2 linked regions of the Homo sapiens genome follow. The protein of the gene in region 2 purifies or fractionates together with the protein of the main gene of each other region. This does not show direct contact. Each region holds a gene or a part of one and is shown on either strand. Other genes may lie near its edges.

Evidence for each region. Proteins that work in one complex are often made in the same cells at the same time.
Region 1: the proteins of ZFP14 (region 2) and AKAP8L purify together in Homo sapiens (co-immunoprecipitation; one large-scale study listed by IntAct). This does not show direct contact.

What each region holds. Positions count from the first base shown.
Region 1 is NC_000019.10:15,408,989-15,412,488, forward strand, and holds part of AKAP8L (A-kinase anchor protein 8-like), read right to left. Parts: intron 1,607-3,500; coding exon 1,532-1,606; intron 1-1,531. UniProt on the Homo sapiens protein: Could play a role in constitutive transport element (CTE)-mediated gene expression by association with DHX9. Increases CTE-dependent nuclear unspliced mRNA export.
Region 2 is NC_000019.10:36,337,702-36,341,201, forward strand, and holds part of ZFP14 (zinc finger protein 14 homolog), read right to left. Parts: coding exon 2,523-3,500; 3' UTR 1-2,522. UniProt on the Homo sapiens protein: May be involved in transcriptional regulation.

The sequences.
Region 1 (3,500 bases), about 21 Mb from region 2:
ACTGCACACCTTGTAGAAAAATTAACTCAATATGGATCACAGACTAAATGTAAAACCCACAACTAAAACACCTAAAAGAAAATTCTAAAGAAAATATTACAGATTTCTTAGATATAAAAGCAAAACCATCATCTATTAAAGAAAAGATTGAATTGGGCTTCAAAATTAACAACTTGTGTTCTTTCTGACACAAGACAAGACACACTGACAAGAGAATAGACAAGCCACAGTCTGGGAGAAAATATTTGTAAATGGCATATCCGAGAAATGGCTTGTACTCAGAATATGCAATCCAGAGGGAAAATAATTCAAAAGGATGTGCAATTAGGGACTACATTTGATGAAAAGGGAGAGGCAGGGAGGGCAGCACAGGGAAGTCAAGCAAACCAAGTTTCTCCTCATTTATGAGACACCTGATACCTTCTCACTCAATTTCAAAATATTTTAAGTCTTCCCTTTTCCTGGGACTAGCTGCTGTTACTTGGGGAGCTTACTTAAGTCTCTTTATGCAGTGACCCCTGAAGGCATGTTAGCTGTGTAGGATCAGTCTTTCCCCAGATCTTGGTAGTAAAAGAAATTACCCATCTCAGTAACTAAGACATTATCCCTGTTAATTCCAAAGAGGGCTCCTTCTCAACAGATACCCCTAGAGTCACAGACAACCAAAAACCAGCTTTAACAGCAGTCCGGGCTGCCACAGCACACAAACAAAACAGCATCTGTGAATCCTACTGGTGGCTACTTCTGAATTAGCTAATTAGGTGTTTCTGTCCACGCTGGAAAACTCAATCAGAGATCTTCACTCAACTCTGTGTGTGTGGAGCCTGCTGGCTTGAGGTGGCCTGGCTGAGTCTCCAAAAGCTGCCAGATTCACACACTCAGCCTCTCTCCCACAGCAAGGACATGCACTATGCTGGGACTAAGTTAATAGCTTGCTTTCTCCTGGACCAATCCTTTGGACTTTTTTTTTTTTGAGACAGAGTCTTGCTCTGTTGCCAGGCTGGAGTGCAGTGGCATGATATCGGCTCACTGTAACCTCTGCCTCCCGGGTTCAAGTGATTCCCCTGCCTCAGCCTCCTGAGTAGCTGCGACCACAGGCACACACCACCATGCCCGGCTAATTTTTTGTATTTTAGTATAGATGGCATTTCACCATGTTGGCCAGGATGGTCTCGATCTCCTGACCTCAAGTGATCCACCCGCCTCGGCCTCCCAAAGTGCTGGGATTACAGGCAGGAGCCACCGCGCCTGGCCTCCTTTGGACTTTAATTGGCCACTGTGACTCCCAGTCCCTCCCCCATGGGGATTTGAAGCCAGGCCTTTTATCAAAGAGCCTAACTTGCTCAGGAACACAGCTACTTTTCCCATAATTGCCTGAAAGGGAAGCACTAGCTATTCAAATGGCCACACCATTTCACACAAGTTTAGGTTTAAAAAAGCATGACAGGGTGACAGCAAAGCCAAAGGCAACTAAGAAGACAAGGAACTGCTCTGCAGAACACTTTGGTTCCCACCAGAAGTCCACACTTACCATAATCACAGGTGGGCTGAGCGCTGGTATCCGAGTATGTCGACTGCAAAGTGGTTTCAGATCCCTGGACAAAGCCTAAACATAAAGACAGTGGGGTTAATTTCCACAAGCAAGTCACAGGGAAATGACCTGAGACTACCTAACCTTTGGTATAGGATTGCCAGCAGGCCCTTCTCTCAACGAAAAGCCACCAAAACCTCTAGATTCCACAGTTTAATTAGACCGTCAGAAAATATTACCCAATGGAAAGGCAGGCTATGTTTAACTTGCTATACCAGGAGGACTAGATTAAAAAATTATTTATTTACTTTTTAAAAACAAGGTCTCACTCTGTCCGGGCTGCAACGCAGTGGCATGATCACGGCTCACTGCAACCTCGACCTTCCAGGCTCAAACAATCCTCCTGCCTCAGCCTCCCAAGTAGCTGAGACTATACGTTCGTGCCATCATTCGCAGCTAATTTTTATACTTTTTTGTAGAGATGGGGTTTCATCATGTTGCCCTGGCTGGTCTTTAATTCCTAGGCTTAAGCAATCCACCCTCCTGAACCTCCCAAAGTGCTGGGATTACAGGTGTGAGCCACAGAGCCTGGCCCCAAATAAAAATTTTTAAACATTTAAGCCAGTAGCCTATTTTGAGAAATGAACACCCAAGTTATCATTCTGTTAAATGAGGAAACTATTCAAATCCCTGAAGGGTGAGCCACTTGGAATTCAAACAAGGATGGAGGTTAGCTTCAAAACCATGTTAAAGCAAATAATACCCCCCTCCCTGTTCTAAATCTGAAACAGAAACTGCTTTTTATTTTGGTTTTCCCATTAAAAAGTGTGTATAACAATTATAACAATTATTTCTGGGCCGGGCAGTGGCTCATGCCTGTAATCCCAACACTTTGGGAGGCCAAGATGACCAGCCTGGGCAACAGGGTGAAACCCTGTCTCTACAAAAAAAAAAAAAAGCCAGCTGTGGCAGCATGTGCCTGTAGTCCTAGCTACTTGGGAGGCTGAGGTGGGAGTGTCACTTGAGCCCAGAAGGTCAAGGCTGCAGTGAGCTATGATTGCGCCACTGCATTCCAGCCTGGGTGACAGAGCAAGACCCTGTCTCAAAACAAAAACAAAAACAAAAAACAATTATTTCTTAAAAGTAATTATTTGGGGTGGCATGGTCATATGGAAATAAGTATTATTATATATACATAAAATTTCCTATCTTCTCAACTTTCAAACTATTTCTCAACATAAAATGAATTAGGGCTGGATGCAGTGGCTCATGCCTGTACTCACAGTACTTTGGGAGGCCAAGGGGGGGTGGACTGGTTGAGGCCAGGAGTTCAAGACCAGCCTGGCCAACATGGTGAAACCCCATCTCTACTAAAAATACAAAAATTAGCTACTAAAAATACAAAAATTACAGGGCACAGTGGCTCACGCCTGTAATCCCAGCACTTTGGGCGGCCGAGGCAGGTGGATCACGAGGTTAGGAGTTCGAGATCAGCCTGGCCAATATGGTGAAACCCTGTCTCTACTAAAAATACAAAAATTAGCTGGGCGTGGTGGTGTGTGCCTGTAGTCCCAGCTGCGCAGGAGGCTGAGGCAGGAGAATCGCTTGAACCCAGGAGGCAGAGGTTGCAGTGAGCCAAAATCATGCCACTGCATTCCAGCCTAGGCGACAGAGCAAGACTCCGTCTCAAAACAAACAAACAAAACCCCAAAATTAGCTGGGTGTGGTGGCACCTGCCTGTAATCCCAGGTTCTTGGGAGGGTGAGGCAGAAGAACTGCTTAAACCCAGGAGGCGGAGATTGCAGTGAGTGGAGATCGTGCCACTGCACTCAAGCCTGGGTAATAGAGCAAGACTCCATCTCAAAATAAATAAATAAATGAAATAAAATAAAATGAGTTAGTGCCAAGTAAGGAAAACTTCTACCTCTATCAGAAACCAGTGCTCCTACAGACTATGACTGATGCTAAT
Region 2 (3,500 bases):
CAATAAGGCTTTGTAGATGGTGGTGTGGACTTCCTATTGCATTACGTCAGGAAGTGTGTTGTCTGATAGACCCATTTTTATTAAGGTTAAAACAGATCAAAGGGTTCAGAGGTGGCCAGTTTGATAGATCCACCATAAAAATCTCGCTATAAAATATTTCACCTATTAGTTGTAGTACCCATTGAAGATCATGTTTTCTGGACCCATTATTCCATTAAGGTCTAGAAAATGGTGATTTTTCTAATCCTCTAATTCCTTCTAGATTTATTAGACTTCTTCAAAAAAGAAAAACCCATTCAAAAAACAAATTTTTTTTTTGAGACAGGGTCTCACTCTGTCACCCAGGCTGGAGTGCAGTGGCACGATCTCAGCTCACTGCAAACTCTGCCTCTTGGGTTCAAGTGATCCTCCCACCTCAGCCTGGGACTACAGGTGTGTGCCACCATGCCTGGCTAAATTTTGTATTTTTAGTACAGACAGGGTTTCACCATGTTAACCAGGTTGGTCTCAAACTCCTGGCCTCAAGTGATCCACCCACCTTGTCCTCCCAAAGTGCTGGGATTACAGGTGTGACCCCTGTGCCAGGCCAAATTCATTTGAATTTGATGAACTTCTGGTGACCCTGAAATTTGGTTCACATGGGAAAAGGAAACTAAATGACAATTTTTCCTCTGATTTATTGATTTCAAGAATAATGAGTTGGGCTGGGTGTGGTGGCTCATACCTGTAACCCCAGCACCTTTGGAGGCCAAGGAGGGAGGATCACTTGAGCCCAGAAGTTCAAGACCAGCCTGGGCAACATAGTGAGACCCTTTCTCTAAAAAAAAAAAAAAAATTTAGGTGGAAGAATCACTTGAGCCCAGGAGGAACAGGGTACAGTGAACTGTGCTTGTACCACTGCACTCCAGCCTGGGGGACAAAGTGACACCCTGTCTCAAAAAAATTATACATTGGTGCTCTAGCATCTTTCATAGGTTACCAAATTATGCAGCCACAATCAAGTAAACTATCAAATTATTGGTGGGATCACATCAAAAACTCAACTTGAAACAACTCCTACTGGTTGAAGATATGGCATTTTGAGCATCCAAAAGTATACTGACTTATAGAATGATGTTTTGTTTCTTTCCCACAGGAGTTTTATACACACACATAAATATACACAACAATATTAAATTCCTAGGTGGTTAATTTCTTTTAAGCCACATTTTTGATAGTTTCTAATTAATTTTAAACTGTGGTCAGACAACAGGGATTGTAAGCCTTTTGCTTTCTGGAATTATGGGAAAATCATTTCCTATTTCCCTCTAATTCTTCAACAGCTGTATTACTAGTGACCTCACATTCATGAAATTCATTTTTGGCATGAAATTTCTAATGCAGCTCAAGTGCTGAAGAACTTCCTACATTCACTACAATCTAAATTTTACCTAGAATAAATTATGTTTAATAATTTCTGAGAGGTGACAGGAGGCATTTCTACATTTATTATGTCTACAGATCTTCCTTTTACGTGAATTCACTAATACTAATGACAATAATAACAATTACAGATAATATTTACAGAATACATGCTATATGACTGTGATTCCTCCAAGTATTAACTACTTACTCCTTGCAACAATCCTATTCCACAGTGTGGCAGGCTGACTCTAAACAGGCCCCCCAGTGGTCCTGTCTCCAGGACTTATTCACACTCTTGTATCATCCCGTTCTCTTGAGTGTGGACTATCCTAGTAACTTACTTCTACCAGTAGAAGGTGAGGGAATGTTACTTCCATGATTAGATTACACAAGATGGTAACTTCCATCTTGCTAGCAGACTGTCCTCCCTTTTGGCTTGCATGCCTTGATGAAGCAAGCAGCCATGTTGATGAGGCTATTGTGGCCAGGAGCTGCAGTCAGCGTTCAGCCAACAGCCAGCTAGAAACTGAGAATCTCAATGCAACAGGCCTCACGGAAATACATTGGGTAACAACTATGTTAGTCTGGATGTGGATCCTTCCCCAGTTGAGCCTTCAGATGAGACCTCAGCCCTGGCTGAAATCTGTAGCCTTGCAAGAGACCCTGAAGCAGAGGACCCAACTAAGTCATGCCTATACTCCTGATCCAAATTATAAGATATAATTATATGTTATTTTATGCTACTAAGTCTGTGGTAATTTATTACGCAGCAATAAATAACTAATACATATAAGTACTATTATTACCATTTTACAAGTCAGCAAAATGAGGCACAGAAGCTTAGTATCTTGTCCAATAAATCAAACTGGTAATCAAGTGGAGAAAGGGAGATAATGACAGATAAGGCTAAAGATTTTCCTACATTCATTACATTATTCTCTCATAGGAATTTGCTGAAGATAAACCATGTTTAAATGGTGTTGGAAGGCTTTTAAATCAACATATTCTTTCTCTAATATAAAATTTATTATGCTTGGAATTGAGCATGAAACACATTTTCTCAAAAATGAATTTTCTGATGTTCTGTAACATCATATACATTTGAAGGCTTTCTTCTATTAAATTCCATTATGAATCTTCTGATGCTGAGTAAGGTGTGAATGCTGTCTAAAGGCCTTCTTACACTCCTTACACTTGTAGGGCTTCTCACCAGTATGAATTCTCTGGTGTTGAGTAAGAAATGAATAAAGTCTAAAAGCCTTACCACATTCCTTACATTCATAAGGTTTCTCACCAGTGTGAATACTCTGATGTTGGGTAAGTTGTGAGAGCAGTCTAAAAGGTTTTCTACATTCCTTACATTCATAAGGTTTCTCACCAGTGTGAATACTTTGATGCTGAGTAAGTTGTGAGAGCAGTCTAAAGGCCTTTCCACACTCTTCACATTCATAGGGTCTCTCACCAATATGAATGCTCTGGTGTGAAATAAGCTGTGAGTAACTACTAAAGGTCTTCCAACATTCCATACATTCATAGGGTTTCTCACGAGTATGTATTCTCTGATGGCGAACTAGTTGTTGTCTTAATCTAAAAGTCTTCCCACATTCCTTACATTCGTAGGGTTTCTCACCAGTATGAATACTCTGATGAACAGTAAGTTGTTGGCATATTCTAAAAGCCTTTCCACACTCCTTACATTCATAGGGTTTCTCACCAAAATGAATTTTCTGATGTACTCTAAGGTCTGGACCACATACGAAGGCTTTCCCACATTCCTTACATTCATAGAGCTTTTCAGCAGTATGAAGTCTCTGATGGCGTGTAAGGTGTGTACACTGTCTAAAGGTCTTTCCACAGTCCTTACATTCATAGGGTTTCTCACCAGTGTGAATTCTCTGATGTCGAGCCAGTTGCTGATGTACTCTAAAGGCCTTTCCACATTCCTTACATTCATAGGGTTTTTCACCCGTATGAAGTCTCTGATGTTGAGTAAGTTCTTGGAGCACTGTAAAGGCCTTCCCACACTCCTTACATTCATAGGGTTTCTCACCGGTGTGAAGTTTGTGATGTCGAATAAGATGTGCACGCTGTCTAAA